2 separate regions of the Homo sapiens genome follow, and region 2 is linked to region 1. The links come from fine-mapping of genetic effects on gene expression. A gene starts in region 1. The other region holds a variant in brackets. All regions are shown on one strand. Distances are between the middles of the regions.

What was found. PIP is the estimated chance that this variant, and not a neighbour inherited with it, causes the effect.
Region 2: its variant is fine-mapped to the expression of FXYD7 in whole blood (INTERVAL, PIP above 0.99).

Annotation. Positions count from the first base shown.
Region 1 is chr19:35,141,143-35,146,507 of GRCh38, reverse strand. It overlaps FXYD7 (FXYD domain containing ion transport regulator 7), which reads right to left and starts at 3,253. Exons shown (of 6, transcript NM_022006.2): 1 at 3,144-3,253. The coding sequence starts at 3,174. FXYD1 (FXYD domain containing ion transport regulator 1) reads right to left here. Exons shown (of 8, transcript NM_021902.4): 4 at 5,302-5,365; 5 at 4,936-4,972; 6 at 3,987-4,036; 7 at 3,737-3,788; 8 at 3,399-3,591. The coding sequence ends at 3,766. RefSeq lists enhancers at 2,470-3,031, 3,032-3,592, 4,716-5,278 and silencers at 4,913-5,132, 5,243-5,365.
Region 2 is chr19:35,175,142-35,180,506 of GRCh38, reverse strand. No RefSeq gene overlaps it. Among named protein-coding and RNA genes, the nearest start is that of FXYD5, 23 kb to the right of the region's middle. RefSeq lists a silencer at 4,500-4,656. The variant C/T (reference allele first, on the strand shown) is at 2,339.

The DNA of each region.
Region 1 (5,365 bases):
AAGCGAAATCACCTGCTTCAGATTGCTCTTATGCTGCCTTCAACTTAAGGCAAAAAGAAGATGAATTTTCCAGCTGGGCACAGTGATTCATGCCTGTAATCCCAGCACTTTGGGAATACAAGGTGGGCGGATCACGAGGTCAGGAGTTTGAGACCAGCCTGGCCAATATGGTGAAACCCCATCTGTACTAACAATACAAAAATTAGCTGGGTGTGGTGGTGTGCCGCTGCTAGTCCCAGCTACTTGGGAGGCTGAGGCAGAAGAATTGCTTGAACCCGGGAGGCAGAGGTTGCAGTAAGCCAAGATCGTGCCACTGCACTCCAGCCTGGATGACAGAGCGAGACTCTGTCTCAAAAAAAAAAAGAAGATTAATTTTCCAGTTGTGATGGTGCTATAAAATAAAGCTCGTTGTTTTCAAAAGCTAATCCTGGGTTGGGCATGGTGGCCCACGCCTGTCATCCTAAGCACTTTGGGAAGCCAAAGTGGGTGAATTGCTTGAGCCCAGAAGTTTGAGACCAGGCTGGGAAACATAGCAAAAGCAGTCTCTATGAAAAATACAAAAATTAGCTGGGTGTAGCAGAAGTGCCTTGTAGTCCCAGCTACTTGGGAGGCTGAGGCAGGAGGATAGATTGAGCCCAGGATGTTGAGGCTGCAGTGAGCTGTGATCGTGCCATTGCACTCCAGCCTAGGCGACAGAGTGAGACCTTGTCTCAAAAAATAAAAATAAAAAAGCTAATCCTTTTAAGGAAAAAAATTAAATAAATAGCAGTGTGAGGAATATTTGAATAAAGCAAAAATTGTGACGGTAGTACTCAAAAGCGCCAAGATGGTGAGACGCTGCTTCAGGGTCCCTTGTGCTCTGTGTAAGTTTCCCCACCAGAGAGTAAATTTGTTTGACTCATCACTGCTGTTCATCCTGACATTTATGAAAGGCTCTTCAAGTTTTCTGGGATGAATGAATGAAGGAATGATTATGAGGCAGTCCTAGGCTGCAGGAGGCTGTAAAAGGTGGATTGTCTCACTTGTCTGTTTTCCACACACCCGTCCTTCCCCAAAGTTATCGGGAGCCCACTGGGTGAGCCCCTGTCCCAGAATCTGGTGTTCCATGTGGAAGATCCTCCTCCATGCGGAAGATCCTCCTCTGGTCCCTGCTGCCCCGGCAACCTGGGCCCTCAGGCGTGGCTGGGCTAAGGGTGGGGCCAGGAGTCAGGCAAAGGAATGTGCACTACTCCTGGCCAGCTGCCAAAGAGATATCAGGAAGGAGGTGGTTGCTATGGCAACTGGGGCATCTTGGGAGGTGAAGAGAGGTGATAGGTCCCGCCACCCCAGGCTGGGTGGGGTCCCCTGTGAGGTCCTGTGTGAGATGCAGGTTTCAATCTTGACCCTCTCCCCTCCTTTTGCACCTCCTGCCGTTGCCCCTGCAGGACTGGCTTCTGGCCAAGCTAAGGGTCCATTTCAGGGATAGGGACCCGGACCCAGCTGTGCTCATGCATCCCTCTTCTGTTCACTCCTAACTCTCCCTCCTGTTCTCTGGCAGGGTGGAGGGAGACTCTCCCCTCTTCCCCCCTCGCTCCCCAACAATTCATTAATTAGTTTCCTTAAGCAGCTTGCAATGCACAACATGCTTTTCCTCCCCCGGGGTTTCCCGAGACCTGCGGTCCCCTGTCATGCTGTGACTGGGAAAGGGGGAGGCAGAGGAGGTTGGGTTGAGGAGTCTGTCCTCCCACCTCTGCCCGTCTGCTGCCATCGATCCTGCTAACCACCACCTCTGCAAAAAGAAGCCCTGGGCTCCCGCCAGGCCTGCTGCCTCAGCCCTGCCCCCCTCCCTAGGGTAGCTTCCAGCCTCTGCAGCCCCCCCCACCCCCCGCCCTGCTTCGGATTCTGCAGATATGGCTCAGTGCAGCAGCCCCCGCCTGCTGGGAAGCGCGGAAGGGAGGGAGCCATCCAAGTGGAATTCGGGTTCCCTTCACTGCCAGGGGCTTCTCAGCACCCCTGGTCCCCTGCCCTCAGTGCTGGAGACCCTTGCTGGGCACTGGCTCCCTCTTGAAGCAGTCTGTGCCTTGCTCATCTGCAGAAGCAGGATTAGCAGTGGGGGCTATTAGGGGGCGACGGTAGAAGTGGGTGTTTAAGTGGGTGCATAACTGGGTTAATTGGTGTGGAATGGAAATCAGTGTGTGGCTGGATGGGGGCAGTAGGGGCAGCTAGGTGTATACCCAACAGCACCTCTGGGATTGGAAAACACCCCTGCTGTGGGCTGGAAGGAGGGTCCCATCGCCCCATTCCCACACATAGGGTCTCACTGCAGTGGTTTGGGCCCCACCCCACATGGCTCCCTTCTTCTCTTTCTACTCCCCTCTCTCCCCATGGGTCCGTCTCTCTCCCTCCGTCTCTCTGCTTCTCTCTCCATAGCGGTCTCAATCCCACTATCTCCCAGGCTCTCATTTTTTTTTCTCTCTCTCTCTGCATCTCTGTCTACTGCTCTCAGCCTCTCCCCTCCACTGGGAATCTCTCTGAGTCCATCTATTTGTCTTCCTGGGTCTTTGTATCTGTGACTCTGGATCTCCTGCCTCTCTTGGTCTCTGTCTCTTCCAGGTTCTCCCTGTCTGTCTCTTGCTATATCCCTTCTCTCTGTCTCTTCCTTCAGCTCTCACTCCTTTCCTCTGAACCTGGCTGTCAAGGGTTTCAGGAAACAGACACCCTAGGAGACAGCACTGGAAAGAAGAGGGACATGAACCTCCTCCCCTTCCCTTGCCCACCCCAGGGACCCTGAAATCTTCCAGAACGTCTCTGGTCGCAGACCCACCCGCTCCCACCCTGCAAGCTCATCTCTTCCCCGTCTGCTACCACCACGGTGCGGGACCAGCCACCCGGTTGCCATAGCGACCTGTCCGAGCATCCCTTCTCCCGGGACTGCCACTCTCCAACCGCAGGTCTGGCACAGGACGCCTGCCGGGGAGGGGGTGTCCCAGAGACCCGGAGGGGCGATCGGGGGGGCGCATTACAGGGGCTTCCGCCCACAGGAGGAGCGGACCTCCCTCCCCCAACTCCCTTGCCTTACCATTGCTTGAATCTCCCGACACCCTCTCTCCTAGGCTCTCAGATCCCGGAGCCCCCCTGCAACCCCCTCCCCAAACGACGCTCACCCTTTGTGGGGGTCTGGGTCGGGGTCGCCATGCTGGGCCGGAGCAGGGGGCTGCTGGATGCTTTGGCGGCGAAGGCGCGCTGCAGCAGCTGGAAGCAGGACGGACCGATGTGGGGGGGAGCTGGGGGGAGCCCTGGCGTGGGGGGGCCTGCAGCCAATGGGGGCCCGGGGAGCCCGCCCCCGTGCAGGCCACCCCCGCCCCCGCCCCCGCCCACCACCGTCGTCCCCGCCCCTTCCTCTAGGGTGGGGCGCCCCCTGCTGGGGCCCAGTGGCGCTGGCGTTTCGCGCTGAGGGACCGAGACCGACAAAGTGCTGTCGAGAGGAACGCACGTTTTATTGGAAGTCTTGGCGGCAGGGGGAGTCTGCGGGGGCAGGGCTGGGGAAGGGGCGGCGGAGGGGGCGGTGGGCGCGCAGGTGGAGCGTGGGAGATGTCAGGTGCCAGGGGAGTCCTGTGAGGGTGAAAAGGGTGAGAGGCGAGGGGGGACGTCCAGCCCCACCCCTCGCCGCCCTTCAACTCTGGCACTTGGCCCCCTCCCTCTCCCGCCTTTCCTTCCTCCCTCCTTCCCTCCCACCGCCGTGTCAGAGCTGCAGCACCTGGCCGGATTCCATCGCTCCAGGTGTTTCTACCGCCTGCGGGTGGACAGACCTGGGGGGAACACGGAGATCGGGGGTCATTCTGGAGAGGCATCCCCAGCTCCTGGGCAGGTGGGGCCCGCGGCGGGGCAACTCCCCGCCCTCCGCTTTCAGATCCAGCCCTTCCCTCTACGCAGCCAGGGAGGGCCGGGAAAAGCGGTCCTTGGAACCAGCCCTCTCCCCAGAATACCCGCAGTCTCCCCAGACTCACGGCGGATGGAGCTGCGGAAAGTTCCCTCCTCTTCATCGGGTTCCCCAGTCCTGGGAAGACAGAGGCAGAGGGATTTCGGGATGGAAAGGGGGAGAGGCTGCCCTTCTAGGAACCCCCCAGTACAAGCCTCCTTTCCCAGATTGGTGTAACTAGGCCCAGATATGGACGAAGAGCAGGCTCGGGGTCCGCCAGAAATGAGGAGCACCCAGGAGCAGCTTATGTGCTGGCAGGGGGCTTCTAAGCTGGTTAACAGTGAGTACCTCCGCGGATTTGGGGGCAGGGATGTGAAGTTGGTGGGGGAGGGATAGTCATGGGGACTTGGCAGACTGCCATGAGATGGCCTGGGTTGGAAACCCAGAACCCCCCATCTTCCACTTGAGTGATCTTGAACAAAGTGACTTTACCTCCCTGTGCCTTAGTTTCCTCATCTGTCAAATGGGGTTAATAACAGCACCTCCCTCCCAGAGGAAGTGAAACCGTATCTAACACGTGGTACACACCCAGTAAATATTAGCTACTACTTATGATAATATCTATAATTGTTCTAACATATTCATACATTGTCCATGCTTTAACATTTTATTCGAAGAGGAATCAAAGAGCTAGGAACAAGACTCTAAGCTAAACTGGGCCGCGTGTGAGATGATCTCATTTCACCGCCGTTTCTTCTTTCCTGCACTTTGTGTTATCACGCTTTGTGATTTTTCTATCTGTGGGGCTGTTGGAACCCACGGCCACCGCCTCCACTAGGCTGGGAGCTCGGCCAGGAAGGGCGGGAGGTTTTTTCCTCGCTTGGTCCCAGGGCCAGGCTTGGGCCATGGCACATAGTAGGTGCTTAATACATAGTCGCTGACGGGGATCGGGCTGCGGGTCAGGGGTACTCCCCGCCTCACCCGCGGCGCCCTCCAGAGCAGGAGCGGGCGAAGGAGGGCGGGGAGGGGCGTCTTACCTCTGCTGCTGGTTGAACTTGCACCGGCATCTTCTGCCTGTGGGCGTGGAGAGGTAGGAGAAGCTGAGGCTCCCTCCCGGCGGGCGCCAAGCGGCGCTGTAGCTCCAGCTCGCCCTCGCGAGGGGCGGGGCTTGGGGGACGGGGCGGGGCTAGAGGCGAGACCGGGGGCCGGGGAACCAAGGCAGGGTAGGCGGGGCAAGGCCTGGGAGGGGTTGGGGCGGGGCGGGGCCAGGGAGGGGCGGGACCAGGGAGAAGCGGGGCCAGGGAGAGGGGGGCTAGGGAGAGGCGGGGCCAGGGAGAGGCGGGGCCAGAGAGAGGTGGGGCCAGGGAGAGGCGGGGTAGAGGGCGGGAGCTAGGGGCACTCACTCAGCACGATGAGGATGCCCAGGATGAAGAGGATCCCGGCGATGACGAGGCCTCCGATCTGCAG
Region 2 (5,365 bases), 34 kb before region 1:
GCTCACGCCTGTAATCCCAGCACTTTGGAAGGCCGAGGCAGGTGGATCACAAGGTCAAGAGATTGAGACCATCTTGGCTAATACGGTGAAACCCCGTCTCTACTAAAAGTACAATAAAATTAGCTGGGCGTTGTGGCAGGCGCCTGTAGTCCCAGCTGCTGGGGAGGCTGAGGCAGGAGAATGGCGTGAACCCGGGAGGCGGAACTTGCAGTAAACCAAGATCACGCCACCACACTCCAGCCTGGGTGACAGAGTGAGACTCCATCTCAAAAAAAAAAAAAAAAGAGAAAGAAAAACCAGATCTCATTGTTAAGATTCTGGCCTTCTGGAACCACTCTTAGTACCAAATTCTGTATCAGCAAAGCTGAACCTTTAATACATATGTGGGCGTACACACACACAGTTTGCTACACGAATTTGACCTTCAACAATTGTAGTTGCTAGTGAAGCTCTCTTTGTAGGGCTGTTGTCTTGATGCTGGAACTTGAAACCCACAGGTGCAGGAAGTCAGGAAGGGAAGATTGAGGTAAGATTGGGGAGAGCACGGAACAAGTTAGAACCCACAAGCACAAGCTGGAGTCCACAAGGATGGACTGAATCCTATGTTAATTCTTTTTCTTTTTCTTTTCTCTTCTTTTTTTTCTTTCTTTCTTTCTTTTTGTTTTTCTTTTTGAGACAGAGTTTCACTCGGTCGACCAGGCTGGAGTGCAGTGGTGTGATCTCTGCTCACTGCAACCTCTGCTTCCCAGGTTGAAGAGATTCTCTTGCCTCAGCCTCCCGAGTAGCTGGGATTGCAGGCATGCAACATCACGCCTGGGTAATTTTTGTATTTTTAGTAAAGATGGAGTTTCACCATGTTGACCAGGCTGGTCTCGAACTCCTGACCTCAAGTGATCCACCCGCCTCGGCCTCCCAGAGTGCTGGAATTACAGGCATGAGCCACTGCACCCAGCCCCATGCTAATTCTTGTTGTCTATGACCTTGGTGCTGTGGGTGTCTTGCTAGAGTCATGGTCCTTCATCACGGGGCTGAGCACACATGTCTGGCCCAACAACTGGGGAAGCTGAAGGAGGATCCAGCGGAAGGTGAAACAGTTGCAGCCCTGGTTGCTGCCTTATGCCAATGAGATGAGCTGTCTGATAAGTGACAACTGGTATAAGCTGCGAAATGTCCGTGGCTTCACCTCTACCCAGCAGATCCCTGACAAGAATGTCTCTTGTGGTTCACCCTAACCAGAAAACACAGGCATCTAGGGAAAAAGATTCTGGGAAGTGTAGTTTAACCTGGCCAAGGTGATACATTACAAAGCCACCTCAGGCGATGTTTCAAACCCTGTTTAACCTCCCACCATCAGCAGCTGGAGTCCTTGACTCAATAACTTCTTGAGAAGCCAACAGACTTTACCGAAGCAATCATTGGAGGTCATCCTCAACACCTCCAAGAAAAGCACAATCTAGTGTCAGATGAGAAAAGGCAGATTCCTTCCAGTTAATGTGATCTGGCCTCAATTTCAAAACAAGAACCTTGACAGAATTGTACTCAGGAGGCTAGCTGAATTACAACATCCACTCCATTAGCTCCTGGCAAGATATCTCCCCTGATGTAAGGGTGGAGGAGGAGGAGGCTTCACTTCAGACCATGATGCCACAGAAAAAGATGTCTTTTGCCAGAAAGGGATTGGGTAGCATTGGAGAGCATTGGAGGCGCTGTTGAAGTGATGTCTGGAAGTCTCTATCAAGTCTGAGAATCAGTGCTGCTGTCCTCTGGAAGTTTCAAAAACGACCAGTTTTTTTTTTTTTTTTGAGATGACGTCTCACTCTTGTCACCCAGGCTGGAGTGCAATGGTGCAATCTTGGCTCACTGCAACCTCCGCCTCCTAGGTTCAAGTGATTCTCTTGCCTCAGCCTCCCGAGTAGCTGGGATTACAGGCATGTGTCACATGCCTGGCTAATTTTTGTATTTTTAGTAGAGATGGGATTTCACCCTGTTGGCCAGGCTGGTTTCGAACTCCTGACCTCAGGTGATCCACCTGCCTTGGCCTCCCAAAGTGTTGAGATTACAGGTGTGAGCCACTGTGCCTGGCCAACCCCCAGTCTTAACAGTTATCTTTTCCTTTTACATTGGAGTAAAAATGACTTGAGGCTCCATCTCCTGACTTGGTGGCAGCTCCCCATCCTTCTCAGCATCCTAATCAACAAATTCCTGAGGGCAATTATTTTCCTTGATGGTATTTGGGGTGTCACGGACTCAGCTAAAAGACCACATTTCTGTGTCCTTTGCAATTAGAGGTAGCAATCCGAAGGAAGTAGAAATCTTTGGGAGGGAGTCTTGGGAAGTC[C/T]CTTTAAAAGGAGCTGAATCACCTAGTGGTGCCTTTCCTTTCTCACTTTTTTTTCCCCTTCTTGATTTTTTTCCTGGAATGTGGCATGATGGCTGAGGCTTCTGCAGCTATTTTGTGATCTTGAGGCTTCAGGCCACATGCTTAGGGTGGCAGAGCAGCAAGTCTGGTCCCTTATGATATTAGGGATCCTCTTTCCCAGCCTTGCACTATGTACTTCAGAGTTCTGCTATGTGAGAGAGGAATAAATAACCTGTTTAAGTCGTTGTTTCTGGCTGTCTCCTGAAGCTGAATACAGTTTCTGCCTCTAGAACTCTTGCTATGTGAGATAATAAATGTCCTTTGCAGTAAACAATATTACTGCCCATCAATACCCAGTTCCCTTCTGATGTGGTTTGGCTGTGCCCCCACCCAAATCTTATCTTGAATTTTCACATATTGTGGGAGGGGCCCAGTGGAAGGTGGTTGAATCATAAGGGCAGGTCTTTCTCTTGCTGGTCTTGTGATGGTGAATGAGTCTCATGAGGTCTGAGGGTTTTAAAAAGGGGAGTTTCCCTGCACAAGCTCTCTTCTCTTGTCTGCCACCATGTGAGACGTGCCTTTCACCTTCTGCCATGATTGAGGCCTCCCCAGCCACGTGGAACTGTAAATCCAATAAAGTTCTTTCTTTTGTAAGTTTCCCAATCTCAGATATGTCTTTATCAGCAGCATGAAAACGGATTAATATACCTTCCTATAAGAAGATTGTAATGTTCTGTGCTGTTGAACTCAAATGTGCCCGTGTGATTTGCTTTCGATAATGACAATGTGAGCAGAAATGAGGTGTGTCCCTTCCTGACAGAGGCTATAAGAGCCAGTGTGTGTCTCACCTTGTTCCTTGTTCTGCCTTCTGCCTGCTATGATAACCAGAAACATTTCTTTTCTTTTATTTTCTTTTCTTTTAGACAGGGTCTCACTCTGGAGTGCAGTGGCGTGATCTCAGCTCACTGCAACCTCCATCTCTTGGGCTCAAGCGATCCCCCCACCTCACCCCTCAAATAGCTGGGACCACAGGCGCAAGCCACCATGCCCAGCTTATTTTTATTTAGTTTTTGAGACGGAGTGTCACTCTGTCACTCTGTCACCCAGGCTGGAGTGCAGTGGCTTGATCTCGGCTCACTGCAACCTCCGCCTCTCAGGTTCAAGTGATTCTCCTGCCTCAGCCTCCTGAGTAGCTGGGATTACAGGCATGCACCGCCATGCCTGGCTAATCTTTCTATTTTTAGTAGAGATGGGGTTTTGACATGTTGGCCAGGCTGGTCTCAAACTCCTGACCTCAGGTAATCCGCCTGCCTCGGCCTCCCAAAGTGCTGGGATTACAGGTGTAAGCCACTGCACTTGGCCTAATTTTTGTATTTTTTGTAGAGACAAGGTTTCACCATATTGGCCAGGTTGGTCTCAAACTCCTGAGATCAAGCGATCTGCCTGCCTCGGCCTCCCAAAGTGCTGGGATTACAGGTGTGAGCCACTGCGCCCAGCCCAGGCTTCCCCATCATCTTGGGTCCCATCCTAGCTCCTAGCTGAACCGTGAGGGACATGTAGTGAGAGCGAGAAACAAACCTTTGTTGTAAGCCACGAGATTTTGAGATTATTTGTGACTGTCAATTTTAAGCAAAATTGGTCTGGCTTGGCATAAGGAATTAGAGGTTGACAAGCTCTTTGGAAAGGCTGGTGGAGTGCGCTCTAAGTGAAGACTGCAAATGATTCCACAACATGAGCAGACTGACTTGCCCAAGGAGCTTCTCCCTCCACCCTAATCAGGAGCCCCCATTGTACACGTCAGCTTCAGCATCTGGCTGCTCTGTCTGAGATCCAGGGATCAGAAAATCATCACCACCCAGGACAGAACTGCCTATTTGTTTTCAATGTTCTTGTTTTGTATTGAGTTATAATTTACTGTGTTAGTTCATTTTGCATTGCCATAAAAGAATACTTGAGACAGTAATTTATAAGGAAAAGAGAATTCTTTGGCTCATGGTTCTTCAGGCTGTACAAGCACAGCACCAGCATCTGCTTGGCTTTTGGTGAAGAGACCTCAGGAATCTTTTACTCATAGCAGGAAGTGAAGGGATAGCAGGCGTGTCCCATGGCAAGAGCAGGAGTAAGACAGAGAGAGGGGGAGGTGCCAGGCTCTTTAAGCAACCAGCTGTCACGTGAGCTAAGAGGGCAAGAACTCACGCATGACCATGGGGAGGACACCAAGCCATTCATGAGGGATCAACCCCCATGACCCAATCACCTCCCACCAGGCCCCCCTCCATCATCGGGGATCACATTTCAACATGAGATTTGGAGGGGTCACACATCCAAATATCACTTACACATAGTAAAGTGTACAAATCTTTTTTTTTTTTTTCCTTTGAGACAGGGTCTTGCTCCATCACCCAGGCTGGAGTCCAGTGGCGCGATCTCGGCTCACTGCAACCTCCGCCTCCCACGTTCAGGCGACTCTCCTGCTTCAGCCTTCTGAGGAGCTGGGATTACAGGCATGCACCACCATGCCTGGCTAATTTTTGTATTTTTAGTAGAGACGGGGTTTCACCATGTTGGCCAGGCTGGTCTCGAACTCCAACCTCAAGTGATCCACCTGCCTTGGCCTCTCAAAGTGTTGTGATTACAGGCATGAGCCACGGCACCGAGCCCTCAAAACTTAAACGTACAATTTGATCATTCTGATCAATATATGGACATGTAATCTGCACCACTGTCATCAGGGCACAGAACATTTCAATCCTTCCAGAAAGTTCTTTCATGCCCCTTTGCAGTCTCTCCCCACCTCCTGCTGACATAGTAGAGGCCACTACTCTTCTGATTTTTATCACTGTTAATCAGTTTTGCATATTTCAGAACTTCATATAAATGGAATTACACAGTCTGTGCTCTTTCGTGTGTGGTTTCTTTCACTCAAGACAATGCTTTTGAGATTCATTCATGTGTTGTGTAGCTCAGTCTTTCTTCCTTCCACAGTTTGTAGTCCACTCACTTGTGCTG